3 separate regions of the Homo sapiens genome follow, and regions 2 and 3 are each linked to region 1. The links come from fine-mapping of genetic effects on gene expression. A gene starts in region 1. Each other region holds a variant in brackets. All regions are shown on one strand. Distances are between the middles of the regions. Region 1 holds the start of GPER1 (G protein-coupled estrogen receptor 1). Region 2 holds the start of ZFAND2A (zinc finger AN1-type containing 2A). Region 3 holds the start of LOC102723758 (a long non-coding RNA gene).

Region 1 (10,339 bases):
TCCCAAAGCATATCACAGCCCCTGGGGGGCAGGGCAGGTGCTGCATGATCCTGGTCCTGTGTCCAGCTCCTGCCACTGCCCCATCTCGTAACCCTCTGGACACAGAGAACGCAGAGAACAGGCAGTGTTCCATGTTCCCACCAAGGGGAAGATCCAGCGCCCGCAGAGAACTAAGGAAGCACCGGGGAGTGTGGTGCTACTGAAGAGAGGATGCGTCATTTGCATTTATCCAAAGAAAGGGTTCACGATGTCTTACGTTCAAACAGATAAAATCAGACTGAGGTGGGGTGGGAGGAGCCTCCCCGAGGCTCCTTGAGGAACTGCCTGGCAGTGACCGAGGTGGGGCTGGGACAATGCCCAGGTGCTGGCCTCTCCTCGGATATTCCGCCATGTGCTCCTGGGGGCGGAGGGTCCCCCAAGGGCAGAGCTCAGCCAGCACCACCCTGCCCACTCTTCTGTAAAGTGCCCCTGGCACGACGCTCCCAGAGAACCCAAGGATGCGCCCAGAATGCTCCCAGCAACCACTGAGGGGGCCCTGCTGGGAGACCCGCAAAACTGCCAATGCCTTGTAGGCCAGCAGCCGCACGCGCCTTCAGTGCTGGAGTCACGCCCAGGGGCTGACGGGCCAGATGGTCTCTGAGTGCAGCAAATTCCGTCTTGTGAGGGAAAGTGATAGAAGATGAGAGTGTGGGCCGGGCGCGGTGGCTCAAGCCTGTAATCCCAGCACTTTGGGAGGGTGAGGCGGGTGGATCACGAGGTCAGGAGATCGAGACCATCCTGGCTAACACAGTAAAACCCCATCTCTACTAAAAAAAAATACAAAAAATTAGCCGGGCCTGGTGGCAGACGCCTGTAGTCCCAGCTACTCGGGAGGCTGAGGCAGGAGAACGGTGTGAACCCGGGAGGTGGAGCTTGCAGTGAGTGGAGTTCGCACCACTGCACTCCAGCCTGGGCGACAGAGCAAGACTCCATCTCAAAAAAAAAACAAAAAAAACAAAAAAAAACACGAGAGTGTGGAGGCGCAGACGACGGGAGCACCTGAGCTTCCGTGCTCAGCATGCTGTGGTCAACTGTGGTCTGCACACACCCACCGTTAACTGGGCCCTCCAGCTGCAGACACCAAACAGGGACAGGACGGCGGCACCGACGCGCCCACGTCCACCAGTGCCAGGCGACACAGCAGAAAACCAGGATGCCCTGCCCCTCACCGCACTGTTTCCGGGCTCGGCAGGCACACACCCTGAATGAAAGGCTCCAACCTGGCGCGGAGCCACGGCCTGCGTGCTTCTGAAGGAACAAGAGAGACGAAGTCACTGTGGGCCGCACCACGTCCTGACAGCAGCTAACCTCCCCAGGCCGGAATGGAACAGATGGAAGACATGGCAAGTCTGTCTGAGGGGAGGTCACAGGATGTCCCTAAAGTCAGGATATGGCACGGAATGCAGAAATTGGAGCAGAGTTCCAACCCCGCCTGCCACTGGTGCGGCAAAACCCGCACACCCCACACACAGCTTCCTTGGGACCTGGGCTCTTTCTATAAAGGGGCTGCTGGTGCATGTCTCCTTAATGCTCCAGGCCTGTGAGGATCGGATGCCCGAGGGTGCTCCTGCATGTCACGCGGAGGCGGGGGACGCCAGCGATGCCCTCCCGGGGGCGTGGGAAGGGGCTCTCGGCCTCCCTTGACTCTCCATCATCAGAGAATGTGTCCGCCTGGCATGTGAGACACGGCGCACTTCTCCGAACCTCGGGCTGTCTTCCAGCATGTGTTAGCTCTAGAATTCCTTCTGCACACAGCTTGATGTCTCCCCTGTAAGGTGGATCCGGCGCGTGGTACTGTGAGCACCTCCAACCAACTGCTCCCTCCCTTGTGCCTATGGGGGAGAAGCGAATGAGCCAGGACTGGGCTAATCTCAGGCAGTGCCGCCCCACCCTTGCCCCTGGTGGACCGCTCCCCTTGAAAAGGAGCAGCAGTTGGTGGGAAGGGAAGCCTCACTCCGCCCAGCAGAGACAAGGGGTGTGTGGGATCTCACAGAACCGTGTAGACCCACGCACCCCCACTGTACAGATGGGCACTGAGGCTCAGGAAGGTTAGAGACGTTGCCCGGTATCACACAGCACGTGGGGTGAGGAAGTGGAACCCGGGCTGGAGCCGGCAACGCTGAAAACCAGGGTTGTTTGGACGGCGACATGCAACTCCCTGAGGGCTCTGCTCCTGCAGAATCAGGGGGACCCATGCTGCTGCCTACCATGGAGGGCATGGGAGAGGACTGGGGATGGGACAGGGAGCAGGAAGGGGTTGCTCAGTCAGTCAGTGCTGGCAGAGGGAGGGGCGCTGGGAAGGCACTGCAGGCCCTGTGTCTGGGGCCTCTCAGCACAAGGACTGGGCTTTGCACGCGAGGACTGAAGGGTCAAAGGCGAGGGCCAAGGTTTCCTACGTGGCATTCACTCGGGAGGGCTCCTGAAGCTGGAGACACACTGCCTTACTTTGTGCGTGTTTTTCTCTATGCATTATCCAGTATTTGGCTATGTGTGCATTTAGCTCAATAAGCAATGATCAGATGAAATTCCCCTTGAAGTTCTTTCCTTTTATTCTATCCTGGGGATGAACAGAAAAATATTTTCACTTCTTAAAAATTCATAACGACATCAGATCCAACAAGGAAATCAGTGCCTGAAAAGATGACTATTGACCCAGGACGCCTCTGGTGTACAGGCCGAGACCATGTGCTCAGAGTCAGCCGGCCCCTCCCAGATCTGCTCCTGGCCAGCTGTGAGGCCGCGGTGACACCACCTCCCTGCAGTCAGTTTCTGCAACCATGAGACGGGGAGAAGGACAGCCCTGCCTCACAGGCTCTGAAGGAGGGTGACCTAAGATCAAGCACGCAGAGCACCGCACAGCGCCCAGCATGCATGTGTACAATGTCACATTCTACACTGAAGGAGGCTGAGACAGGAGGATCTCTTGAGCCCAGGAGTTCAAGACCAGCCTTGGCAATACAGTGAGACCTTATCTCTACAAAAAAATTAAAAAAAAAAAAAAAATTAGCGGCTCGCATCTGTAGTCCCAGCTACTCAGGGGCCGGGGTGGGAGGATGGCTTGAGCCTGGGAGGTGGAGGCTGCAGTGAGCTGAGATCAGGCCACTGCACACTGGCCTGGGCAACAGAGCAAAATCCTGTCTCAAAAAAAAAAAAAGATTTAAAAATCGGCAAAAGGTCTCTATGCCTTACAAATAGTCCACGAGATTCCTGCCATGCCGTCACACATCAAGTATTAAGTAGGTCTTGGAGACGGAAGTTCCTGCAGTCCGGGCCCTGTCTCTTACATCAGTAGCTGTACAGTACAAGTTACTTACCCGCCCAGTGCCCACAGGAGAAGGCTGCGCTCCAAGACCCAGATGCCCCGATCCGCTGACTCTATGCTGCAAGCAGGAAATCTAGGAGTATCGGCCACTCGCCCGCCCAGGGCAGGCTCCCCAGGAAACCCAGGGCACGTGAGTGGAGAGCTTGGGAGCTGAGCTCTTCCTCAGCCGCTGGGATGGGCAGAGAGACCAGAAGCCATGGGTTTGCACTAGCAGGGTGCAGCTATTTTTAAGTGACATGTCTCAGCTATTTCAAGGTTTGAATTTTTATTTTACTTATTTTTTTCTGTACTTTCTCATGACTCACATCTTTCAAAATTGTGTCTCAGGCATTTTTAATGCTGAAATCATCTCAACTTCACAGCTGGTCAAAAAATGTCTAAGAGCAAATCAGCTCTTTATCATCCAAATACAAAAAGGTACATATTAGAGTTGTCAACTTTCTACTGCTGGAAGAAAACTCCACGTTAGTATTTTTCCATTAAAAAATTAACACAGCATTCTGTTTAGGAAATGTGTGTATATTTCCTAAAATACACATCTGAAAGACTTTAAATTGCTATTGCACAGATGCCTTGAGCCCCAGCAGGTCCCGAGGGGCCGAGTGCCCCTGGAGGCCCAGCACCCCACTCTTGCACCTGCACCAGCTCTCCTGGCGGGGAGCAGGTCCCGAGGGGCCGAGTGCACCTGGAGGCCCAGCACCCCAGTCCTCTGCCTGCACCAGCTCTCCTGGGGGGGAGGGGGAAGGGGGGAGCCCACGCAGGTCTCTGAACCACGCCTCAGGCTGCAGCAGCCGCATTACTCATACTCAGCGGACAAAGGATCACTCAGCATTCAATCTCACCACTTCAAAACATTACAGAGGGAAAACGACACCTAGAAGTAGGAGTGAGATTCGCTGAAGTTCCCTTCTGAGGAAGACCCACCCCTCCGCCTGGAGAGCCGGGGCTGGCGGTGCCTGAGGACCCCTTCGGCCTGGACAGCCCACGCGGGCTTGGGGGGCCTCGCTCTGCCCTCATGGGGCGGCCATCGGTTCCCGAAGCGGCGAGTGAAAATTCAAATGGCCAGTAGGGGGCGCACTCGGAAGTGGCCGCCCCGCATGAGGCAGTTCAGCGGCCCCGAGAGTCCGGGGAGGGAGGTTTATTCTCCGCCTGCACGAGACTGTGAAATCCGCAACCATGAGCAGGAGAGGCGGCCCTGGTGGGGAAGAGGCCACCAACATCTGGACGGCAGGTAAGTTCCGACGCTTCTGCAGCGAGCGCGGGAGGAGGGACCTGAGGCACCGCTAACACTCAGAGAAAACTACCGGCTGAGGGTCCCTGGTCTGAATGCTTGGGACCGGAAGAGTTTCGGAGTTCAGATTTTTGCAGATTTTGGAATATCTGCAGGTACAGAATGAGAAAGCTAAATACGAAATTCATTTGTGTTTCATACACACCTTATACACACTGCCTGAAGGCAACTTTATAAAAACACTTTTAACAATTTCATGCATAAAACAAACTTTGAACTGCCTGGACTGCAGCCCGCCACACGAGGTCAGGTGTGGAATTTTCCACTTGTGTCACGACGCTCCAACAGTGTCGGACTGTGGGGCACTCTGGATTTCAGATTTCCAGATGCTTAACCAGTACTCAGATTCCTAAGTTACTTGTCAGAAATGCCTATTTCTTGGGATTACACTTCTCTCTGCAAATGTCTGTGAAATTCCTGTTAAATTCTTTATGGATCATGCACATGCTACTAAGTTAATTATGAAATTTAGTGTTTAACGCAGGTCAGTTGCAAAAACAAGAATATTGCTTGCTTCAACCCAGGAGGACAGGTTATTGCCTAAAAGATACACAACACCTAGTATGATGCCTTCAAACTTAAAGAAAGGTTTGTATCTGTGGGTGAAGAAAAGCAGTTAAACCAGAAACTTCCACAAAAACAAGTCTAGTAGAACTGAGCTGATTGCCAAAGTGTGGGAGAAAAAGGGCCAGCAAAAAAATGGTTAACACTAGCCTTCTGAGGAGGCCGCCCAGAGCCTGGCCAGAGAGGAGCCAGAGAGGAGCGGGGCGGAGGGGGCCTATAAAGCCCTGTGCCAAGGGGCAGACTCACTGGCTCAGAGGGAGGACGCACCCGCCAGCCAGCCGGGAACCTTCCCTCGCGGGCTCCCAGGGCGGGTCTCTTCCTCTCTCTAGCCCTGCTCAGGCATTCGGCAGGTCCAGCAGAGGTACACCTCCTGCAGCGGGTTCCAAGTGCACCTCCAGCCTGATGGGCCTGACCAAGGAGGCTTCCAGGAGCACAGAAGGGGCTGCAACCCAGGTAGGACTCAGCCTCGGCCTGGCGGTGCCATACCACTGACTAGGGGAGCGGGTGGGTGGTGCCACCCAGGCCGCTGTCCTGTTATGGGAACAGCTGAACACAGACCAGACACCTCACCCCCTGGTGAGAGCAGCACCCAGCTTCCCAAACTCAAGGCACAGACCCCTCTCCCCCGGAGCTCCGGTGGTCTCAGCGTGACCGCAGCAGGGGCTTTGCCTGGACGGCCTTTCTAACTCGTGCTGAAAGCAGGACCCAGTATTCCGTCACGTTCTGTCCCAGCAAGAACGTGTCTCACTTCAAGAAAATGAGGGTGCCCACTCTGCCCTGCCCTGCGGTGCCCCAGTCACTCTCACCAACCCTGAAGCCCTGGGAGGGCCACACGCCTTTTGACAGATGCAGACTTAATACAGCTGACTAAAGTGTGGCTTTATTTCTCTATGACAAGCAGAGGAAATCTGAAATGAGGTATTGCACTGTTTATAACTCCATGGCCACCTCCAGTGAGGACGTGGGGCCAGTGGTGAATGGCACACTAGGTTCCTCTCACCCAGGACCACATCAGACACTAGGACACATCAGACACCAGGTCCCGTATCTTCTCGGTGTCTGGCAACGATCAAAAGACTCAATTTACATGGGAAAGAAATGAATGACTCGTTTTTAAACTATTTTTCCCTTGGAGTTCATTTAACAAAATTAGGAAAGAAAATAAACGTTAAGTTGAGGGTTCTGCCCACCTTTAAACTTCCTGCCACGCCACGGTCTAATACGTTCCAAAATTTCTACATTTAAAGAGCAAAACAAGTCCTCTGTGCCGTTTTTAAGAAATTAAATACAGAGGCGAAATGCGGAGTCTTTCAACCTTCCCGACAGAGCCTGAGAGCAGAGGCATTTATGCTGTTCAATGGTATTATCTACTAAAGATGAATCAAGAGTGCAAAATAACCAAAATCAAATTCACCAGCCCCAGCTAAGTGAAGGTTATTCAGTACTTTTAGAATAACTGACACAGAGGCAGTGATTCATCTTGTCTTCCCCACCCGCCTGTTTTTGAGATGGGGCCTCACTGCAGTAGCTCAGGCTCGAGTGCAGTGGTGTGATCTCGGCTGAGGCTCGAGTGCAGTGGTGTGATCTCGGCTGAGGCTCGAGTGCAGTGGTGTGATCTTGGCTCACTGCAACCTCTACCTGCCAGGCTCAGGCGATCCTCCTGCCTCAGCCTCCCGAGTAGCTGGGACTACAGGCGCACACCACTATGCCCAGCTACTTTTTTTGTCTTTTTTTAGTAGAGACAGGGTTTCGCCATGTTACCCAGGCTGGTCTCGAACTCCTGAACTTGAGCAATCCTCCCACCTCATCTTCCTGAAGTGCTGGGATTATAGGCCAGCCTTTTTTTTTTTTTTTTTTTTAAGTAAGTATTTTCAAGCAATAGGTCAACAAATCTCTAGTCTGGTTTTGCAGCACTTCAAAACAATAACCCCTGGCCCGGCGCGGTGGATCACACCTGTAATCCCAGCACCGTGGGAGGCCAAGGCGGGCAGATCACTACAGGTCAGAAGTTCGATACAAGCCTGGGCAACATGGTAAAACCCCATCTCTACTAAAAATATAAAACATTAGCCAGGCGTGGTGGTGCACACCTATAATCCCAGATACTCAGGAGGCTGAGGCAGGAGAACCACTCTAACCCGGGAGGCGGCAGTTGCAGTGAGCCGAGATTGTGCCACTGCACTCCAACCTGGGTGACCAAAAAAAAAAAACATTCAAAACAATAACTCCTAATGATTTCAAAAGGTAAAATGAAAATTCCCAAAGGAAAAACAACTCAAACCCATTTTGAAGTGTTAGTTTACTCCAGGGCACCAGCACCATCTGGGCCAGGTAATTCTCTGCTGGGCTTGGGCACCTGTCCTAGGCACTGTAGGGAGCTGAGCGGCAGCCCTGGCCCCACCAGCACCCCCCTGTGACTGCCCCCGCATCCCCAGAGACTGCCAGTGTCTGCAGGCTGAGACCCCCGTGGCCCGCTGCATAGAGAACTTCCAGGAGCACAGTGACACGGGGCAGGTGACGGGACCCTCCCCACTGGCGGCAGAGCCGGGGTGACACGGGGCAGGTGACAGGACCTCCCCACTCGCAGCAGGGCCAGGGTGACACGGGGTGGGTGATGGGACCCTCCCCACTGGCGGCAGAGCCGGGGTGACACAGGGCAGGTGATGGGACCCTACCCACTGGCGGCAGAGCCGGGGTGACACGGGGCGGGTGACGGGACCTCTCCACTGGCGGCAGAGCCAGGGTGACACGGGGTGGGTGACGGGACCCTCCCCACTGGCGGCAGAGCCCGGGCACCGCCGTGGGCGGACAGCCCACTTCTCCCTCTCTGCAGAGGATAAGCTCGGGAGGGACTCTCTCCCTGGAGTTTCTTCCTAGGTTACAAACAGCATTGCAAAAACATATTAGGTTTTACAATAATTTGTTAAAACATGAAATAAAAACGTACATATTATTTCCCAAAACAATGACCCCTTTCACTCTATATTACGAAAATAAGTTTATTTTTGGTACCTAGAACACAGAACTAGCATGAGGAAACCGCTGAACTTCTGTTTTATCGTAAGAGAAGATTCTGCTCTGATGTCCAGCTTTCTGGACCCACTCTCTCTCTCTCAGAAACACTGGCTTTCCCTTCCTATCTTACTTCTCCATCAGCTGCTGAAATGCATTTTCCCCTCTCCTCACAAATGCCGTTGTCCTGGGGCGGCCGTGCCCATACCTTCATTGCTTCCTGGGCCTGCTCTGTGGCTATAAAGGGAAAAACACCCCTGCCTGTGGGAGTGACTCACGTCCAGCCTCCAGCTGCAGCTGAGCAGCCGTGGGACCTGCAGGAAAGAAGGCCATGTACTTCCCACAGGCGACTCTTCCACCTCAGCTCAACCACAGCCACCTCCCGAGCTCATAAAGCTGAGGTTCTGGCCCTCCCCAGTGCTCCTGACACACCCAGACTCTACAGACACCCGGCCAGGGGAGCCAGGCCTTGTCCCAAAGCTGGGGCCACTCGATGAGACTTCATCCTCTCCTGTTGCTTCTCCAGGTACCCAGAGAGTGAGCAGCTCCACGCGGGACTGTGCACGGTGGCCGACACCCGCAGGGACGCCCGCCGGACGAGCACGCGGAGGGCCCTCGCCTCCACGGATGCACCATGCCGGTGTGAGGAGCATCTGTTCTTCCCACTCTCTGCAGTTAACAAACCCAACCCAAACCACCACAGGTGCTCCTCCTGGGGAGTTTCCTGTCTGACAAATGCCAGGCTCACTTCAAGGAGAATCACGCTTCTTTCTAAAGATGGATTCACCATTTAAAACAGAGCTCTGGGAGCCTTTCGGCAAATCTTGAAAGCTGCACGGTGCAGAGACATGGATGTGACTTCCCAAGCCCGGGGCGTGGGCCTGGAGATGTACCCAGGCACCGCGCAGCCTGCGGCCCCCAACACCACCTCCCCCGAGCTCAACCTGTCCCACCCGCTCCTGGGCACCGCCCTGGCCAATGGGACAGGTGAGCTCTCGGAGCACCAGCAGTACGTGATCGGCCTGTTCCTCTCGTGCCTCTACACCATCTTCCTCTTCCCCATCGGCTTTGTGGGCAACATCCTGATCCTGGTGGTGAACATCAGCTTCCGCGAGAAGATGACCATCCCCGACCTGTACTTCATCAACCTGGCGGTGGCGGACCTCATCCTGGTGGCCGACTCCCTCATTGAGGTGTTCAACCTGCACGAGCGGTACTACGACATCGCCGTCCTGTGCACCTTCATGTCGCTCTTCCTGCAGGTCAACATGTACAGCAGCGTCTTCTTCCTCACCTGGATGAGCTTCGACCGCTACATCGCCCTGGCCAGGGCCATGCGCTGCAGCCTGTTCCGCACCAAGCACCACGCCCGGCTGAGCTGTGGCCTCATCTGGATGGCATCCGTGTCAGCCACGCTGGTGCCCTTCACCGCCGTGCACCTGCAGCACACCGACGAGGCCTGCTTCTGTTTCGCGGATGTCCGGGAGGTGCAGTGGCTCGAGGTCACGCTGGGCTTCATCGTGCCCTTCGCCATCATCGGCCTGTGCTACTCCCTCATTGTCCGGGTGCTGGTCAGGGCGCACCGGCACCGTGGGCTGCGGCCCCGGCGGCAGAAGGCGCTCCGCATGATCCTCGCGGTGGTGCTGGTCTTCTTCGTCTGCTGGCTGCCGGAGAACGTCTTCATCAGCGTGCACCTCCTGCAGCGGACGCAGCCTGGGGCCGCTCCCTGCAAGCAGTCTTTCCGCCATGCCCACCCCCTCACGGGCCACATTGTCAACCTCGCCGCCTTCTCCAACAGCTGCCTAAACCCCCTCATCTACAGCTTTCTCGGGGAGACCTTCAGGGACAAGCTGAGGCTGTACATTGAGCAGAAAACAAATTTGCCGGCCCTGAACCGCTTCTGTCACGCTGCCCTGAAGGCCGTCATTCCAGACAGCACCGAGCAGTCGGATGTGAGGTTCAGCAGTGCCGTGTAGACAGCCTTGGCCGCATAGGCCCAGCCAGGGTGTGACTCGGGAGCTGCACACACCTGGGTGGACACAAGGCACGGCCACGTCATGTCTCTAAACTGCGGTCAGATGTGGCTTCTGGCTCCTCGGGGCCTCGCGAGG
Region 2 (10,339 bases), 73 kb after region 1:
AACCTGACCTGGGATCCCTCATATTAAAGAACATTTATAAAACTGAAAACTCAGGCCCCTCGCAGTTTAGGACAGGGATAACGCAGCGTTAGGACTCTTCTTTTCTACTTTGTACATAAACTATTGGGAGTAATTTTCAGGTAGCAAACTGACTCTTCCCAAGGAAAAACCAGGCTTCCCAGATGAAGGAACTGAGGCGGGCTCTGTCCTTACCTTCTCTTTCTTCTTCCCAGGGTGAGAGTCACAGTCTCTGTCAATGTGATCACCAACCACCACGTCTGGTATCTGGCCCTTTTTTACTGGGATGGGGGTATTACAGAGTGGGCATACTGGGACGTGAACATCCTAAAAATAACAAAGGTAAGATGGCATCTGAGACTCATGCAACTTAAACTCACAGAAGTTTTAAACGAGTACTCCTGTGCGGCACACTTAAACACAAAGAGAGGACAAAAACCGGTCTCCCGAGCCCTCCGAGAACAAAGCATCACTGGGTCATGGATTAGCGGCAGCCATCTCTAGAATGTGGGCATCAGCTGCCCTGAGGAGTCTAGTGAAGTTTCAACGAATGGACTTCAGCCGACTGCAGAAACCAGCTGGGGCCATCTCAGGCTGGCACCGCCCAGGTGAGAACAGAGCCTGCCCAGACACCTCCACAGGGAGGAGATGGAGGGAAACATGGACCACAAAGACCCTCCAGCTCCCCTCAGTCGCCAACGGCCTGATCCCTTTGCGGTTTCCCCAGTGGCTTCTACGTACACAGAGAGTTGCTTGCGCCCAGATGAGGCCACGTGTACCTAGGGTGAGCTCCCAGGTACTAACGACCGTCACTGGCTGCAGGCCAAGGTTGTGAGGGCTCCAAAGGGGTGGACCGCCCAGCAAGGCTAAAAACCTGAGCTGGGGGCTCCGAAGGGGTGGACTGCCCAGCAGCTGAAGGCCCAGCAAGGCTAAAAACCTGAGCTGGGGGCTCCGAAGGGGTGGACCGCCCAGCAGCTGAAGGCCCAGCAAGGCTAAAAACCTGAGCTGGGGGCTCCGAAGGGGTGGACCGCCCAGCAGCTGAAGGCCCAGCAAGGCTAAAAACCTGAGCTGGGGGCTCCGAAGGGGTGGACCGCCCAGCAGCTGAAGGCCCAGCAAGGCTAAAAACCTGAGCTGGGGGCTCCGAAGGGGTGGACCGCCCAGCAGCTGAAGGCCCAGCAAGGCTAAAAACCTGAGCTGGGGGCTCCGAAGGGGTGGACCGCCCAGCAGCTGAAGGCCCAGCAAGGCTAAAAACCTGAGCTGGGGGCTCCGAAGGGGTGGACCGCCCAGCAGCTGAAGGCCCAGCAAGGCTAAAAACCTGAGCTGGGGGCTCCGAAGGGGTGGACCGCCCAGCAGCTAACGCCCAGCATGGCTAAAAACCTGAGCCAGGGCAGGAATTGATGGAAAGGTCAATGAGAAAACCGAGGTGGCAACCGACATGGAACGGGTGGCAGGTGCTCACGGAATTATGAGCACACCCGTCTACAGCCCGAGCTGGGAGAGTCACAGGTGGTGGTGCTTCCTCATTTGGTCAAATGAAATAAAGTATTAGTAAACGGTCTCCAGCCAGACCCCACCCCATGCTGGGGCAGGAAGGGGCAGTGGGAAGACAAGCTGGGCAGTCTGGCTTAGTCATCCGTGCCTAGTAAACGCAGGGAATGTGAGTCACCCTCCCCACCCACCGTGATGGCCTAAAAATGGCTGGAGGGTCAGACCCTGGCCAACACTGGTCAAAGCACAGAATGCTGGGCCACCCACATTACCACTGCCACCACGGTCAAGTGGCAGAGTTCACTAAAATGACCTGTGACCCATCCAGAGACAAAGTAAACACGGGCTGGGAACCATCTGAAAAGTCAACAACAAGTCTCAAACCTCTGGACTCGGGGCAAGCTCATTTCCTTAGGTCCTCTTTCAGTTTCTGCTGTGTACTCTGGGAGTCACCTAAATACTATGTCAAGGCTGCAGTTATTCAAATCAATAAGCGTATTTACTGCCTTCCTGATTGGCTTCCAAGTCAAATATTAAAATCTTTCTTGCATCTGGTGAAGACACAGCTATGGTGTAACAGCTATGGTGTAACAGATCAAAGGAACCAAGTATTTGAACATCTAAAGTAAGCTTGGAACATAAGGTTACAACTAAGTGACTCCATGAGTCCCTGAAAATAAGATCTCAGTTGTCTGAGAGTCATCCAACAGAATGTCCTGTGAGGGCAGACACGCTCCTCTGTACTGCCTAACAGCAGGCACCTGAAACGAGGCTAGTGGGACTGAAAAACTGGATTTTAAAATTTAATTTTCAATGAGTTAGCCATACGTCGCTAGTCCCTACCATACCAGCAAGACAGTGCAGCTTCAGACGGTGAAGATGAGAATCTTTTGAACAAAGGATCAATTACCTTCTGGAATGCAAACGGACACTTATGTGCAGCGTATGGAAAATGATCTTTACAGAAATCTTGTTTACATGCATCACATTTTACTGGAAGAAAATCTAAAAAACAAAAAACAGGGAAGTGTTTTAACGACTGGAACAAAATACTTCCAGATAGTACTATCAAAGTGTTTACCTACACTAAGTGTTTTAGGCCTATGAGATGGACAGGTCCTCGAGGGCCACACATGTGAAAACAATCCCAGGGTCAGGCTGTCTTCTAGAGACCCCCTATGGCATCGCAAGTATTCCAGCAGCCCCCTGGATCCACCTGGCCCTGCTAGCCAGCCTGCACTCCTGCACCCAGCCTCTGGTGGATGCTAAGTGTCAAACAGAACCTGCACCAGCACAGTTCCCAATACTGAGGAGCCAGGAAGGCCAAGACACAATTATCAGCTAATTAACAGAACAGCCAGCTTTCCCCCAACAAAATACCATTTTCTATTAAGTCTCTTAAAAGTACTCACCTAGCTGCTTGCAAGTCTTTTCTGAACAATGCTTCCCCAAATCAGGAAACTCCATTATGAGAACAGTGCTCAAAACGCAGATGGCGGAGTTAAGTGTCACCTACAAGAGAATCAGAATAGTTAGGAGGAAAGCTGGACTGCCCTTCAGTCACCAGGATTTACAATGTAATTACAGCTAATGAAAGTCAACAAACGCACTGTGTGGGGAGCATTCCATGGAGTTTTAGTACAAATACCAGGTGTCCGCCATTCGTAGTCAACCCCATTAAGAGACACGGACTCCTTCACAGGCCTTTTAATTCCTAGTCTATGAAGCACTCCTTGAACTCGGGTTTCTATTTAAACTCACACTGAGGGGGCGAGAGCTAATTCACACAGCTGCCAGTGATGATTACGACTTTGGTGAATTTTAAGTCACAATTTTATCCATGGAATATACTTGTTCACATAAACAAAACTCTGTTACTAGGTGCTAAATCACATCAGTTGACTCCATTATCCAGAGAAGATTTAACTCTGTCCCTCGCCTCTCTCTTCAACTCCCTTAGGCATTGAATCTTACTGTGAACTTATTCCTCGATGACATCAACCTGGAGTTGATCAGGGAGAAGCGCAAGCTGTTAAGTCACTATGGAAAACAGGCAGACAGCTGGTGAAACTACCGCACTCGAGAGAGAATCAAGGGGCTCACGAGGTCCCCTCCATGATCTAGTACCCACCAGCCCTCCCGGGGCCTTTTCCTGGGGCTCACGAGGTCCCGTCATCTAGTACTCACCAGCCCCTCCCGGGGCCTTTTCCTGACCTTCCCATCAGCTCTCTCCCCACTCCTGGAGGCCTCCTAGACTGTCGCCTAAGACTGGAACACTCTCGCCCATGGCAAACGTCTAGTTATCCCCTCCCGCCTCAGTTTAAAGCCATTCCCACCCTCCCCAGTTCCCTCTATGTTACACGCCCGCTACTTAAGGTGCCCATTAGTCCTTTCCCAGCCCTCCTTCGCCCACAGCTTCCAACTACAGATCCGCTGCTTTACTATTAGCTCCCGGTGCCCGACACACAGCAGGCGTTCCGAAATTGTTTTGTTCAAGGAATTCACAAGAGTTTGATGTGAATCCCCAAATGATTTTGTTCTGGACGCACAGCACCCGTCCTAGGAAACCAACACCCTACCCTGGCGGGCCGGGCCCGCAGCAAGAAAACACACATCTACGTGGCTGTCACTCGGCTGGCGGGTTAACGACCCCGTGCGACCCGGTACTACGGCCCCGATGGCAGGCCCGGCCCCCAGCAGACAGCCGGACTCCCAGCAGACAGGCCGGACCCCCAGCAGCCAGACCCCGGCAGGCCCGGTCCCCAGCAGACAGCCGGACCCCCAACAGCCAGACCCCGGCAGGCCCGGTCCCCAGCAGACAGGCCGGACCCCCAACAGCCAGACCCCGGCAGGCCCGGTCCCCAGCAGACAGGCCGGACCCCCAGCAGCCAGACCCCGGCAGGCCCGGTCCCCAGCAGACAGGCCGGACCCCCAGCAGCCAGACCCCGGCAGGCCCGGTCCCCAGCAGACAGCCGGACCCCCAACAGCCAGACCCCGGCAGGCCCGGTCCCCAGCAGACAGGCCGGACCCCCAGCAGCCAGACCCCGGCAGGCCCGGTCCCCAGCAGACAGGCCGGACCCCCAGCAGCCTGACCTCCAGCAAGCAGCCGGACTTTCAGCAGCCGCACTCCTAGCAGACAGGCCGAACCCCCGAGCAACCTGACCTCAAGGCAGGCCCGACCCCCGGCAGACCCTGTCTGCGCAATCCCGGCCCCGTACCTGGCTCTCGTCGGGGACCCAGGCAGCTGAGGTGAGCAGCAGATGGAAGAGACGTAAACTCAGGTGTCCTCCTCCGTAGTCGGCTCCGGGTAGCTAAGCAGAAAGAACCTCGACACTGGCACCGAGACGCCGTCGGAGGCACACCCACACCCACACCGGAACGCAACATCTCGCTGCCCGCGGCCTACGGGGATTTATCCGCAGCCCCCGGATCTGAGAGCCGTCTGGGCCTTGGGGTTTCCGGGCGCGCCCCGACAACGTCACCCGCAGACCGGCCAATCCCGCCAGGCCGCGGCCCAGTGGCGCCGGCGCACACCGAAGACGACACCAGCCATCCGGCCAATCCCGCCCCGCCGCGCCCCGCAGGCCCGCCCACT[C/T]CTCGCTTCTCCACTTCCCTTCTCGAAGTGTCCGGTCGCTTCTCGCAGGCGGCGCGCTTGCTGGGTCACAGTGAGGCGGCTCCGCGCAGGCGCAGCCGGGCGGGCGAGGAGCGGGGAAGCTGACTCAGGGCTGCGGCCGGGGTCCTGCGGGGTAGGAGCGCGAGGCCGGCCTGAGGGAGGAGGCCTAGCGACCCATCCGGCGCCTCCCGCCCCGGGCACCCGCCCGCGGCCGCGCATCCTGCGGGCCCCAGGAGGCCTCCATCTCAAAACAACGTGTTTTTAGGTAATTTCAAACTTAGGGAAAAGCTTCAAGAATAATACCGAAAATGTCAGTGTCCCCAGCACCTAGATCCCCCAGTTAAATCCTTTTCCATTTCACCGCGCTGCCCCCCGCCCCCTGGACGGTTATGTGGCCGCGTGGGGTTGGCTCTGCCCAGGGCCGCGGTCACTGCACAGAACGCCCTGCACGTAAGGGGCTCCGCCTGGGTAAGACCCCGCCCAGCTGGGCAGGAGGAGGGCGTGGGCCCAGGACATGGAGACCAGCCTGGGCAACATAGCGAGACCCCATCTCTGCAGAAATAAAATATTAGCCGGACGGTGCACGGTGGCTCAGGCCTGTAATCCCGGCACTTTGGGAGGCCGAGGTGGGAGGATGGCCTGAGGTTAGTGTCTCACATGTCTGTGTGAAGAGACCACCAAACAGGCTTTGTGTGAGCAACAAGGCTGTTTATTTCACCCGGGTGCAGCCCGGCTGAGTCGGAAAAGAGAGTCAGCAAAGGGCGATGGGATTATCATTAGTTCTTACAGGTTTTGGGATAGACGGTGGAGTTAGGAGCAATGTTTTGCAGGCAGGTGGTGGATCTCATAAGGTACATTCTCAAGGGTGGGGAGAATTACAAAGAACCTTCTTAAGGGTAGAGGAGATTACAAAGTACATTGATCAGTTAGGATGGGGCAGAAACAAATTACAAGGGTGGAATGTCATCAGTTAAGGCTGTTTTCACTTCTTTTGTGGATCTTCAGTTGCTTCAGGCCATCTGGATGTATACATGCAGGTCACTGGGGATATGATGGCTTAGCTTGGGCTCAGAGGCCTGACAGGAGTTCAAGACCAGCCTGGTGAACATGACGAAACCCTGTCTCTACAAAAATAAGAAATGAACGCAGCATGGTGGCATGCACCTGCAGTCCCAGCCTCTTGGGAGGTGGAGGCATAAGTCAGCTGTGAATGCGCCCTGCACTAGAGCCTGGGCAGCAGAGCAGACCCTTCCTCAAACCCAAAAAGCGTCGTGCCAACCAGACCAGATGGTCGCCTAATCAATAGAGACCATGCCCAATCAGGTAAGGACAGACACAACCAGGCATGCTTTTTCTTGTTTTGTTTTTTGTTTGTTGTTTTGAGATGGAGTTTCACTCTTGTTGCCCAGGCTGGAGTGCAGTGGTGTGATCTCGGCTCACCGGAACCACCACCTCCTGGGTTCAAGCGATTCTCCTGCCTCAGTCTCCCAAGTAGCTGGGATTACAGGCATGCACCACCAGGCCCGGCTAATTTTGTATTTTTAGTAGAGACGGGGGTTTCTCCATATTGGTCAGGCTGGTCTCAAACTCCCAACCTCAGGTGATCTGCCTGCCTCGGCCTCCCAAAGTACTGGCATTACAGGCGTGAGCCACTGCGCCCAGCTTGTTGTTTTTCTTTAGACAGTGTCTTCCTCTGTGGCTCAGGCTGAAGGGCACTGGGATGATCACAGCTCACTGCAGCCTCCACCTCCCAGGCTCAAGCCATCCTTCTTCCTCAGGCTCCTGAGTAGCGGGAGCTACAGGCATGCGCCATCATGCCTGGCTAATTTTTGTATTTTTTGTAGATACGGGGTTTTGCTATGTAGCCCAGGCTGGTCTTGAACTCCTGACCTCAGGTGATCCCTCTGCCTCAGCTTCCCAAAGCGCTGGGATTACAGAACATGAGCCACTGTGCCCGGCTTATTGTACAGTCTTTACTCTCGGTTTTCACCAGAGAACTCAAGGGCTGTGAAAAGAGCAGGACCTCACCAGCTGCACGGCGGTGGTGACTGGCTCCATCTTGCTGTCCCTCCCAATCACACAACATCTCCCCTTGAAGGCTCTGCCCAGGCCCGGACTCCCACCTTTCAAGATGTCTGGATCAGTGCAGGACCTCCTCCTTGGCCACATCGCTCTCCTTGGACTGGTTCGTTAACCCTGTTTTACCCACATTTTCTTTTTTTTTCTTTTTCTTTTTTTTTTTTTTTCTGAGACAGAGTTTCATTCTTGTTGCCCAGGCTGGAGTGCAATGACTCGGTCTCGGCTCATTGCAACCTCCGCCTTGCAGGTTCAAGTGATTCTCCCACCTCAGCCTCCCAAGTAGGATTACAGGTACACACCACCACGCACAGCTAATTGTTTTGTATTTTAGGAAGAGATGGGGTTTCATCATGTTAGCCAGGCTGGTCAGGTGATCCATCCGCCTTGGCCTCCCCAAGTGCTGGGATTACAGGCGTGAGGCACTGTGCCCGGCCTGCCCCCCTTTTCTCTTGATGTAAGTGGACATTTTAATCCATAATCTGTAACATTTATGTATTAAGTTTACTACTATCTTTGGTTTGCAGTGTTGACTCACCTGTGGAGTGGTCTGAGCCTGAATGCCCGGGGCTGTGGCCACCGAGTGAACGGGCTGTGCTAAGGGGAATTGCCACCTTGGGAAACCTGTGTAGTTGCGGCTTTTCTGATTAAGTATCAATAAAAGTCTGACCTTGTGAAAAAAGCAAACGTGAGTGGCCCTGCTTATGTTTCACCTTGCGTTGCTCAGTGATAGTTCTGCAAAGTCGCAGGAAACCTGGAATCATCTAATTATCGTGAGTGTTGGTGAGTAACACCCATAGGCACTGGCTCCCGGGGAAATACAGAGTCAGGTTCCTCCGAGCCGCTGGCCACAGCATTTTTGTTAAGCAGTTCATCGTTAACCTTGTTGTACATGTCTCTCTCTCAAGGTTCCTTATTTAATAATGTCTAGTTGATTCATTAACATGGAATTCATGGCCAGTACCTCTGTCACTCATGCCTGACTGAAGTTGATCAGCACGTCTTTTTCTCCCTTAGGCACATGACAGCCTTCTTGCAATCAAGAAACTACGTGTGGCCAGGTACGGTGGCTCACGCATGTAATTCCAGCACTTGGGGAGGCCAAGGCGGGTGGATCACCTGAGGTCAGGAGTTTGAGACCAGCCTGACCAGTATGGTGAAACTCCTTCTCTAGTAAAAATACAGACATTAGCCGGGCATGGTGGTGCACACCTGTAATCCCAGCTACTCGGGAGGCTGCGGCAGGAGAATCTCGGGGGTGGAGGTTGCAGTGAGCTGAGATCGCCCCACTGCACTCCAGCTTGGGCAACAGTGAGACTCCATCTCAAAACAAAACAAAACAAAAAAATTGGCCAGGTGTGGTGGGGGGCGCGGCGCACCTGTAATTCCAGCTGCTCAGGATGTTAAGGCAGAAGAATCGCTTGAACCTGGGAGGTGGAAGTTGCAGTGAGCCTAGATTGTGCCACTACACTCCAGCCTGGTTGACAGAGTGAAGCTCTGTCTCAAAAAAAGAAAAGAAACAATACTAAGTTCTGATTCTCAGACCCCATTCAGTTTTTTTTTGTTGTTGAGACGGAGTCTCGCTCAGTCGCCCAGGCTGGAGTACAGTGGTGCGATCTTGGCTCACTGCAACTTCTGCCTCCTGGGTTCAAGCGATGCTCCTGCCTCAGCCTCCTGCAGATTTTACAGACAGTATCAACAATGTCTCTTTTCCTTTCCGCTCCAGGATCTCATCCACTATCACAGTTTCAGCTTTCCCCAAACTGGAATGTGTCTTTGCAGACGCCCATCCTTATTAAAGGGCAAAGACTTCTCATACACCTAGGATGGATCTTATATTCTTGGCGGGACTGCAGAGAAGGTGCCGTGTCCTGAGTCCTCATGTCAGGGCACAGGCTTCCAGCCAGTTCTACCTGGGTTATGTTTATCTCAATTCCCTGGTGGTATTGGTGTCTGCTGGGTTTTGCCAGAATGAAGACACCGTGTTTTCATTTGTCAGTTGATTCGTATTTTCCAGGAAGACATTCTGAGATTACAGCATTGTCTTAGTCAAGGTGCTGCAGAAGGACAGAACTAATAGGATATATGTACATATGAAAGAAAGTTTATGAAGAACTGGCTCACACCATCACAAGGCAAAGTCCCATGACAGGCCATCTGCAAGCTGAGGAGCGAGGAAGCCAGCAGTGGCTCAGCCGGAGTCCAACAGCCTCAAACGGAATCCAACAGTTCAGGCTTCAGTCTGTGGCCAAATGCCCAGAGACCCCGGAAAGCTACTGGTGTTAGTCCCAGAGCCGGAAGGCCAAAGAACCTGGAGTGTGATGTCCAAGGGCAGGAGGAATGGACAGAAGCATCCAGCATGGGGTAAAGACGAAAGCCAGAAGACTCAGCAAGCTAGCTTACCTACTTTCTTCTGCCTGCCTTGTTCTAGCCGCGCTGGCAGCCGGTTGGAGGGTGCCCACCCCCACTGAGGGTGGATCTTCCTCTCCTAGTCCACTGACTCAAATTTCAGTCTCTCTGGGAGCACCATCACACCAGAAACAATACCAGCCATCTAGCCACCCTTCAGTTCACCATCACAACCATTGTCTTATTCATGAAACTTCTGCAGACCCACCTTAACCTCCATCGGTGACTTCTACCTGAAGCCCTCTGATTGTTGCCCAGTGGTGCTTTTTAAAATAATTTCCATAGTTTCTTCTACACCTTTAGTTGGCATTCTACTGTAAAGGAGAGATTTTATTTTCTTACTCATTTATTTGTTAGTTTATAGTCACCACCATATGGATGCAGAGTTCTGTCTCATTCACTGGGAAGTATTCTATTGCAGTCATGATTTATTTTGATGTTCACATCCCAGAGTTGGTGAGTGAGCGCCCCTTCACGCTGGCTCCCGAGTGCTGACGTGTCCCCGTCCTTCTCTGCACTTTTCCTTACCTCCTGGCCTCAGATATTCCAGGGTCATTTGTTCTCTCCCTGCTCCAACCCTGCAGTCAGCCATCTCCCTAGGGACGTTGGTTCCTTTATGGAAGGTGGCATTTAGAAGCCAGGATTTGGGCTGAGCACTGTGGCTCATGCTTGTAATCCCAGCACTTGGGGAGGCCGAAGTGGGCGGATCGCTGGAGGCCAAGAGTCTGAGACCAG
Region 3 (10,339 bases), 24 kb after region 1:
AGCTCAAATGCTCTGTACTGCAGGACCATGAAGAGAAGCGGGGAAGGGAAAGAGCCACAGAGGAAGCCATGTGTCCATGTGCACTGTGAGCAAGGCCAACACCCACCCGGAAAAACTGCCGCTTAGCCCTGTCTGCAACCCACTATCCCCAAGCTCAGTGGGCACTCCACAGCCCGCCTAGGAATGGGAGAGAGCCCATGATGCGCTCACAGACACCCAGCTATGCACGGGTCAACAAATACGGTCCCATCTGCAAAAAAGAGAGAAAACTGCCATTTACCAAGAACCCACTACACAGAAGCCAGTGACTGTGGAACCACCAACAGACATGACTCTGCCTCCTGCTTCTTAACCCAGGGAAGCTGGTAGCTTCTTCCCACTCTACAGAGAATAAGACCATGAGATGAAGGTTCTGTCTCCCAATCACAGAATTCGCCGTGGCTTCCAACACCATGCTGCCCACAAGCTGCAAAGCACATGCCAAAAGCTCAGTCAACAAGACAGAACTACTGGACAGGGCTCTGAACTCTTTTTGACAATCTTATGAACACTAGGGGTTCTCTCCCCACAACTGTACCACCGTGACGTACAGTCTGCAAGTTCTTCCCTGAATCCCACCAGTGGCCTGCAGGGAAGACCTTCCTGCACTGGAGCCCCACGCCCCGGGAGGAAGCAGAGGAGGGCTGTGTCCCACACTGGAGTCCTGCACCCCTGGAGGAAGCAGAGGAGGGCTGTGTCCCACACTGGAGACCCGCACCCCGGGAGGAAGCAGAGGAGGGCTGTGTCCCACACTGGAGACCCGCACCCCGGGAGGAAGCAGAGGAGGGCTGTGTCCCACACTGGAGACCCGCACCCCGGGAGGAAGCAGAGGGGGGCTGTGTCCCGCACTGGAGACCCGCACCCCGGGAGGAAGCAGAGGGGGGCTGTGTCCCGCACTGGAGTCCCGCACCCCGGGGGGAAGCAGAGGGGGGCTGTGTCCCGCACTGGAGTCCCGCACCCCGGGGGGAAGCAGAGGGGGGCTGTGTCCCGCACTGGAGTCCCGCACCCCGGGGGGAAGCAGAGGGGGGCTGTGTCCCGCACTGGAGTCCCGCACCCCGGGGGGAAGCAGAGGGGGGCTGTGTCCCGCACTGGAGTCCCGCACCCCGGGGGGGAAGCAGAGGAGGGCTGTGTCCCGCACTGGAGTCCCGCACCCCGGGGGGAAGCAGGGGAGGGCTGTGTCCCACACTGGAGTCCCGCGCCCCGGGAGGAAGCAGAGGGGGGCTGTGTCCCGCACCCCGGGGGGAAGCAGAGGGGGGCTGTGTCCCGCGCTCTGCGGGGAAGCAGAGGGGGGCTGCTCTCCTTGGCGGGCCCTGTGGGCAGCTTTGCACCTATCTGCTGCGGACTCCACGAATCTCACGGCCCAAACGCACGGGTGTGCTGACTTGTCAACTGGGGGTTCCCATGAGGCGGGGGCAGTGCAAATCTGCCTGGGGTTCTGATTCTGTGCGGATGGCTTTCTATCCACCCCAGCTTCCCTGCCATGTGTCTCCGCCAGCTAAAAGGATTTTGTACCTCCCATTTTAAGGACAAGTGGCTCTCGGCTAGGAGGGCAGTTGAGTTCCACTCTCTGCCGCCTGAGTGTCTGAGATCACCCGGGTTGCCGTGTCACTGCTGACACACACGCCCCTACCGTGTGCACCCGCTTTGATGCCGATGGGGGCCATCCAGTGTGCACCCCCCTCACTGGAGCGGCTGCTGGGTCTCTTCTTTACCACCTGCTTTTGAATTAACTATGCTAGAAAATTCGGCTGTGATATTTCTCCCAGGCATTTTTTTTTTTTTTTTTTTGAGACGGAGTCTCGCTCTGTCGCCCAGGCTGGAGTGCAGTGCTGCAAACTCGGCTCACTGCAACTCTGCTTCCCAGGTTCAAGCGATTCTCCTGCCTCAGCCTCCCAAGTAGCTGGGATCACAGGCGCCCCACCATCACACCCAGCTCATTTTTCTATTTTTTGTAGAGACAGGGTTTCAACATGTTGGCCAGACTGGTCTCAAATTCCTGACCTCAGGTGATCCACCCGCCACAGCCTCCCAAAGTGCTCGGAGCCACCACGCCCAGCCTCTTCCAGTATTTTTATGTGTGTGAGGCAGAAGGGACGATTTCCCATGTTGACCAATCCACCATATTGACAGAAGTTCCATATATCTGCATTACCTAAACTTTCATGACAAGCATGTATTTGTTTTAAACAATTTTAAAATACCTTAATCCAATAAAAGAATTAAGACCCTTCAAGTGGTCCTAATCCCAACAGGCTGAAAACCACCGGCCTGAAGATCACCTTGGGAATCCAGCCGACACGCGTGGCCCCTGAGGCCCCCCATTCCTGCGTGGTTCCTAAAAGCATATAAAAAACTCTTTCACTGCTCATTTTCGTAAAGGCTACAGTGTAACACTCCATTTCACTTGCAGCTCAGCACGCAGTCGCTCCACACCCTGGGGTGCGGTGAGTTTAGTCTGCAGGTGCGAACACGGAACAGGTGGACATGCCCTCCCCACTCACCTCTGCGTGGGCGACGGAGCCTTTCCCGCCCGCCGGGCCCTCCCCACTCACCCCTCCATGGCCAGCAGGGCCCTTCCCCTCCCCCGCCGGGCCCTCCCCACTCACCCCTCCGTGGGCGGCGGAGCCCTTCCCGCCCGCCGGGCCCTGGGGCAGCACAGCTTCCCGATTCCCACGTGCCTCTGCGTCTCGGCGCCACGGGTGACTTTCGGTCCAGATGCCAGCAAAGACATCTCTCTGTCTACCAGGCAACCACCTCCATCCTCACCTCCTCACGGGCAGACTCTAACTACCTCCGCTCTCTCCACAAATGCCAGTGCGAGCGCAGCCTCGCCGGGCCGTGGGCTGCGTCCAGGGCTACAGTAATGAGCCGGAGGGCAGCGTGGGGAGGACACCAATGCCGGCACCTTCTCCCGGGCCCTCCACGCCCAGACACGGAGGCTACGCAAATCTGCCCCAAGCGCAGAGGCGAGCGGGTGCCCACAGGAGACAGAGGACCTCGCGCCGGCCGAGGCAGGGCTCAGTCCGTGGAAGAGCTCTGGCGGCACCAGCGCATGTGGTAGCAAAATCCCCACGCAGCCGCTCCTAGCTTCCCGCCAGAATACCTCGAGATGCCAGGAAGGAAAGCGCACACACCACCACAAAAGCTAAGCTAAACAATCCGCTGTGAAAATCAGGGAGGCACGTCCTCCGACGACAAGGATGCCGAGCAGGGCTTCCATCTTCATGGTGCGGCTCCGAGAGGAAAAGCCAGCCACCAAAGACCCCTCACCCCTCTCCCCGCGCCGGCACCTCCCGGGCCAAGGTCTCCAAATCTAACGGAGGCTGGGAAGGGCCCCTCAGTGCGAAGGCACGGCCGCCTGGGCAGCCTGAGCGCTCTTCCCGCGCCTCCCGCCACGTCTTCCCATGGCTCCCGTGGGGCAGAGCGGGAGCGGGTGTCGGGGGTTTGGGGAGATCCACCATGGGGCCGCATCCCGAGGGAGCAGACCGGGACACGGGCCTCGCGGGGCCTGTGCGGCCACAGCGCTGTGGGGCGTGGGAGGCCGCTGTCTGTGTAGGGCAAAAGCCATAAACACAAACAGCCCAACTGGAAAAATATTTGAAACATGAAGGATAGATAAAGGCTCTTAGTTTAAGAAGTGTGTTTGCAAATCAGTACAGAAAAGATAAATTACAATAGAAGTGGTTAAAAAAAAAAAAGCAAAAACCACACACAGGCAATTCACAAAAAAAAACCAAATGACCAATATGTACATGGAAAATGACCATCAACCGTAATCTTAGAAGCTGAAATTAAAGCAATCACGCCAGGTGTGGTGGCACACGCCTGTAGTCCCAGCTACTCCAGAGGCCGAGGCAGAGAACTGCTTGAACCCAGGAGGTGGCGGTTGCAGTGAGCCGGGATCGCACCAGGGCACTCCAGCCTGGGCGACAGAGCGAGACTCCGTCTCAAAAGAAAAAAGCAAAAAAAACAACAAAAAACATTTAATGTCTGGCTTGGTGCTTTGCAGTCTGCCTGTCTAATCTGTGGTAAACTTTTGAGGAGGCGGCACCAGATATAACATGTCTCTGTTATTTTTAGAATTAACTGATTAAAATGTTTTGCTATTTAAAATAAATAAATAAAATAAAGCAATCACCAGCTATCACTGCTTCCTGTCACACTGGATCACAACACCCAGGGAGGACACAGGGTAGCAGGTGTTCTGCTGCGGCCCAGGCCTCATATAACCATCTTGATGGCAAAGGTTTTCTCAAAGTGCAACTTTAAGGGAAAGACATAAAATGAAACCAACTACTATTCTCATCCATGGCATAACACAAAGGTGTTGAACAAAACAGTCTTTATTCAAGGGCCTGCTGTTTGTCGTTTTGCTTAAAGTCACAGTTTCTGGCCAGGTGAGGTGGCTCATCCCTGAAATCCCAGCACTCTGGGAGGCCAAGGCGAGAGGATCGCTTGAGCCTGGGATTTCAAGACCAGCCTAGGCAACGTAGGGAGACTCTGTCCCTACAAAAAATACAAAATTTAGCTGGGCATGGTGATACATAAACCTGTGGTCCCAGCTACTTGGGAGGCTGAGGTGGGAGGATCACTTGAGCCAGGGAGGTTGAGGCTACAGTGAGCCAGGATCACGCCATTGCACTTCAGCCTGGGTGACAGAGGGAGACCCTCTCAAAAAAAAAAAAGTTGCAGTTTCCAAGGGCCTCGGGGCGGGTGACACTGAGTGAGGACTCGCTGTGGATGGAAAAGCAAACATGCCCACTGCAGAAATCCTCAGCACACGCGGCTGCTACAGACGTTAACCACGGCGTCATTTCACGGTGGCAGAATCAGTCTTTCTGGTTTCTTCCATAAATTTCTCTGTATTTTCTAATTTCTTTTACATTAATCATGTATAACTCAGGAAAAATAATACACATTACTTTTTTAAAATTACATTTTGCTGAGTTCGTTTCTGTTGACCACAAAGAAGCAGCGCTGGCAAACATCTGGGCTGATCACAGCAGCAATGACAGCATTAGATGGAAATTCCACTGACATGGAAACAGTGGGCTTTCTGGAATATGGGGAAGTGGATCCTGTTTTCTTTGGCCCAGAATGAGGATGGTCAGATCTCCATGGCAGTGAGGAAGGCCGGCGAGCCTCCAGTTTCTCAGCAGTTCTTTGGATCTGACCAGCAGGCTGAGAAAGCCCAGCTTAGAGATGAGAGAGGCCGGCCGGGAGCCCAGTGCCAGCTAACAGCTCACCTGCCCTGCGGCCCGGCCTCCACCTGCTCACTCTGAGAGACGCCTGGCAAGGTGGCTGGGACGGCTACCCCCAAAAGGCTCCTGGAGAAAGAGACCACAGGAGTGCCCCACACAGACAGGGTGAACGAGCCTCCTCGGACAGGAACACCGTGGATGGCCCCACATGAAGCCAGGAAAGTCCCACGGAACCTGGCAGCTTCCAGCAACGATTGGGCCAATAGCACATATCACGAGCCTTGGAAAAGCAAACGAGCTTTAATTCTGCTTCTCCTAATTCCTAGGACATTAATCGGCTGTCCTCTTCGAAACGGGAGTGCTGTGATCCAAATGGC[TA/T]AAAAAAAAAAAAAAAAAGAAAAAGCGATCACACCATGTGCCAGTGAGGGTGCGGGGTCCGGCCTCAGCTGTGCTTGCAGTGCGAACGCAAAACGGCACGGCCACTCTGGAGAAGCGCAGCGGCTTCGTAAACATCTAAACATGCATGCACCATGCAACCCGGCAGCCACGTCCTGGGCACTTACCCCAGAGCGATGGAAACGTATGCTCAGGCATATTTACAGAGCTTTACTCACAAAAGCCAAAGCCCAGAGATCCAAATGTTCTTTGCACCGTGGATGAATAAGGGTCTATAAAGCAGCAGCACCAGGAGCCGTGCAGTGCAGGATCCTCCTGTATCTTGACCGCCACAGTGGTGGTTACAGGAAGCTATGCACCTGGAAAAACTGCAGGGCGCACACACACGCACACACCCGCACGTACAACCGTGGACTCTGGACGAGCTCTGTGCGAGGCATCCACGTCGATGTCCTGGGGAAGCCAGGCCACACAGGCCCCTCATGCTTTTTTTTTTTTTAATTTACTAAGAATCTACCGTTATTTTAAACATAAACTTGCTTTAAGAGAAAGTGCGAGTGAGCGCCCTGATGGCACTGGCTTGCTGAGTACTGTGTTTTCACACTGTCCCCCAGCAACCAATGCCCTGAAAGCCAGGAGTGCCCGCTCCCAGAAGGCGCCGCCCGGGCAGCAGCAGCTGCTCCTGTTCTCTGCAGGCTGGTGCTGTTCCTGTTCGGAGCAGGTGTGCGACCCACATGGCAGGGGCACGGACTTGCTTCGACCGTCCACACTGAGAAGATTCTGTAAGCATCACGAGGTGCTGATGGGTCACCACGCCCCACAGGATGCAGAACAGCTGGAATCGGATGGCAGCGCTGGGCAGGGACTCGGAGCTCATCTACTTCACATCTCACGCTCCACAGGACTCCTTCCCGGGCGGCCCTTACGACACCCACCTCGTCCCAGCCCGAGCATTTCCCAGGACAGACTCATTACCTCCTCTTAGACAGCACTGATTTTCCGACAGCGTGCCTCATCCCAAGCCACCACCTGTGCCTGTAATTCCTACCCGCGGGTGCCAGCTCTGACTGCCAGGCAAGGAGCGGTGCAGAAACTCTGAGCCATGGCAGGCTTCGAGGGGCAAAGGGGCTCCAGGACCCGGCCTGGACGGCAGGAGGCCACGCTCTGCTCCGGGGCTCTTCTCAAACTTGTCTCCAGGGAGCGAATGGAGAGGCCCGAGCTCAGAAAGAAGTACAAACCTCTCAGTGGCTCAACTTCCCGTCGACATAGATACTAATTTTATATTTCAAGTTAAATGTCCTCTTGTTGCTCACTGATGCCCTATTCTTCTCCTAATTAACCCGCAGTGCAGCGGTGCCCATGGCAAGCTTTCCCACTGTAGCAAGGACACGGCCCTGATCATTTCCCACAATAAACCCAGAGTCCTGCCAACTTCCCAAGGGGTGCAGGCCAGACTGTGCGGCCACTGGCCCATACAAGGGCCGGGCTGTTCCTTACTCAAAGTGCAACCACTGGGCCTCTTCCACGTGGTAGGAGACGCAGAACTGGAGGCAGAAAGACCTGCTGCCTAAGTGCCACGATCTGTCAGGGCAGAGGCCGCCCGCAGCTGGGGAGTGACCTCAGACGCAGGTCCTAAGCTGCAGGTTAAAGAGGCAAATGCGCCCCTGTCACCAGCGTGAATTGTGGTGAGCCTGGAGAAGTGCTGTTTCTGCCTTGGTTGGACTCGATGTTTAGACTCGGAGAATGAAACTTCAGCCCCCTGGTCAAGTCCCCGGCAGCCTCTGTGGGTAAATCAGCTTTGGTTGGACACGGCTGCCCCCGCTCGGCCGCTCATGGCCTAACGCTGTTCCTGCTCCACAGGCCGTGATGGGCGCGGGGCCCAAGGGCTACCCCCTTCCCCAGCTGGCCTTTACGGAAGGACTGAGGCCAGCTCTCCCATGGGTGAGGGAAAGAGATGGTGATCAGGAACACCAGCAAACCAGGGCTGACAAGAGCAAGGAATCGCCAGGCCCAAACCGCGGGGTGAGCCAGGGCTCAGAAACGAGGGTGGCCCGGGAGCCATTCTGCCCGGGCGATGGGCAGGTGTCTGAGGCCCCACGGGGCAGGAGGGGAGGTGGAGGGGCTCGCAGGAGAGCTGCCCCTGCCCCGCACAAAGCAGCTGCTCTCACAGGGTTGCAGGGTTGGACGTGGGTGGGAGCCATGGTCACTCTGCAGCCTTCCCAGCAACCCCATAAGCACCAAACTCCCTGTGTTAAACCCCTTCCTGTTTGAGATGCCTGTGGGGGTCCTGTTTCGCCTTTGTGGATACCGTGGGCATGTCTGTTACCAGACTGCAGTCCACAAAAGTGAAAGCTCATGCTTTGGCGGAGACAATTCAAAGTCTCTACTTGCTTAAAAATTCTCATCTTTTGAGATAAATAAGATCCAAAAAGATATGCCTCATTTTATAATAAATCTTTGCTGTTTTTTAGGAGTGTTTCTTGGGGAGAGGGAAGAAACTGTTTGATTTTCATCATGTCTGGGTGTTAAATTTCTCCAAACACTTCTTGGGCATTCACTGAGATGAGAAACGGCCCCGGCCCTGCCACTGCCCACCCTTCGGGAAACGCCCCACCACAGACCCAGCCCCCAGGCTCGCCCTCACCGGGCGCCAGGGGATGTTTGCTATTTAACACAGAGAACAGGAAATCAGGAGGCGCTCCCCATCACCTCCCAGGTCAGACGCCATCCACCCTCCTCATCACCAACGCCCACGCAGGATGACTTCACTACAGCTCTACGGACCGGCTTCCATCACCAACGCCCATGCAGGATGACATCACTACAGCTCTACGGACAGGCTTCCATCACCAACGCCCAGGCAGGATGGCATCACTACAGCTCTAGGGATGGCTTCCATCACCAACGCCCACGCAGGATGATGACATCACTACAGCTCTAGGACCGGCTTCCATCACCAACGCCCACGCAGGATGACTTCACTACAGCTCTACGGACCGGCTTCCATCACCGACGCCCACGCAGGATGATGACATCACTACAGCACTACGGACCGGCTTCCATCACCAACGCCCACGCAGGATGACATCACTACAGCTCTAGGGATGGCTTCCATCACCGACGCCCACGCAGGATGATGACATCACTACAGCTCTAGGACCGGCTTCCATCACCAACGCCCACGCAGGATGACATCACTAAAGCTCTAGGGACGGCTTCCATCACCAAAGCCCACGCAGGATGATGACATCACTGCAGCTCTACGGACCGGCTTCCAGCACCGACGCCCACGCAGGATGATGACATCACTACAGCTCTACGGACCCGCTTCCATCACCGACGCCCACGCAGGATGATGACATCACTACAGCTCTAGGGACCGGCTTCCATCACCAATGCCCATGCAGGATGACATAACTACAGCTCTACGGACCGGCTTCCATCACCAACGCCCACGCAGGATGACATCACTACAGCTCTAGGGACTGGCTTCCATCACCAACGCCCACGCAGGATGACTTCACTACAGCTCTACGGACCGGCTTCCATCACCAAGGCCCACGCAGGATGACATCACTACAGCTCTACGGACAGGCTTCCATCACCAACGCCCATGCAGGATGATGACATCACTACAGCTCTAGGGACAGCTTCCATCACCGACGCCCACGCAGGATGATGACATGACTGCAGCTCTACGGACCGGCTTCCATCACCGACGTCCACGCAGGATGATGACATCACTGCAGTTCTAGGACCAGCTTCCATCACCGACGCCCACGCAGGATGATGACATCACTGCAGTTCTAGGACCGGCTTCCATCACCGACGCCCACGCAGGATGATGACATCACTACAGTTCTACGGACCGGCTTCCATCACCGACGCCCACGCAGGATGATGACATCACTACAGTTCTACGGACCGGCTTCCATCACCGACGTCCACGCAGGATGATGACATCACTACAGCTCTACGGACCGGCTTCCATCACCGACGTCCACGCAGGATGATGACATCACTACAGCTCTACGGACAGGCTTCCATCACCAACGCCCATGCAGGATGATGACATCACTACAGATCTAGGGACCGGCTTCCATCACCGACGCCCACGCAGGATGATGACATGACTGCAGCTCTACGGACCGGCTTCCATCACCGACGTCCACGCAGGATGATGACATCACTGCAGTTCTAGGACCGGCTTCCATCACCGACGCCCACGCAGGATGATGACATCACTGCAGTTCTAGGACCGGCTTCCATCACCGACGCCCACGCAGGATGATGACAGCACTACAGTTCTACGGACCGGCTTCCATCACCGACGCCCACGCAGGATGATGACATCACTACAGCTCTACGGACCGGCTTCCATCACCGACGCCCACGCAGGATGATGACATCACTACAGCTCTACGGACCGGCTTCCATCACCGACGTCCACGCAGGATGATGACATCACTACAACTCTACGGACCGGCTTCCATCACCGACGTCCACGCAGGATGATGACATCACTACAGCTCTACGGACCGGCTTCCATCACCGACGCCCACGCAGGATGATGACATCACTACAGCTCTACAGACCGGCTTCCATCACCGACGCCCACGCAGGATGATGACATCACTGCAGCTCTACGGACCGGCTTCCATCACCAACGCCCACGCAGGATGACATCACTGCAGTTCTACGGA

What was found.
Region 2: its variant is fine-mapped to the expression of GPER1 in whole blood (TOPMed, PIP above 0.99).
Region 3: its variant is fine-mapped to the expression of GPER1 in whole blood (INTERVAL, PIP above 0.99).

The regions. Positions count from the first base shown.
Region 1 is chr7:1,082,653-1,092,991 of GRCh38, forward strand. GPER1 (G protein-coupled estrogen receptor 1) reads left to right here and starts at 5,461. Exons shown (of 2, transcript NM_001098201.3): 1 at 5,461-5,669; 2 at 8,755-10,339. The coding sequence starts at 9,077. The coding sequence ends at 10,204. The region is part of intron 2 of CHLSN (cholesin); the gene reads right to left.
Region 2 is chr7:1,155,240-1,165,578 of GRCh38, forward strand. ZFAND2A (zinc finger AN1-type containing 2A) reads right to left here and starts at 4,957. Exons shown (of 5, transcript NM_182491.4): 1 at 4,725-4,957; 2 at 2,919-3,018; 3 at 2,417-2,511; 4 at 214-345. The coding sequence starts at 2,973. It overlaps ZFAND2A-DT (ZFAND2A divergent transcript), which reads left to right and starts at 5,135. Exons shown (of 3, transcript NR_110069.1): 1 at 5,135-5,384; 2 at 7,113-7,304; 3 at 8,922-10,339. RefSeq lists enhancers at 4,059-4,573, 4,574-5,086, 5,087-5,600, 5,601-6,113 and silencers at 4,896-5,435, 5,446-5,495. The variant C/T (reference allele first, on the strand shown) is at 5,102.
Region 3 is chr7:1,107,088-1,117,426 of GRCh38, forward strand. All of the region lies in intron 2 of CHLSN (cholesin), which reads right to left. LOC102723758 (a long non-coding RNA gene) reads left to right here and starts at 5,688. Exons shown (of 4, transcript XR_007060183.1): 1 at 5,688-10,339. RefSeq lists enhancers at 1,158-1,701, 3,104-3,944, 9,314-10,339. The variant TA/T (reference allele first, on the strand shown) is at 5,618.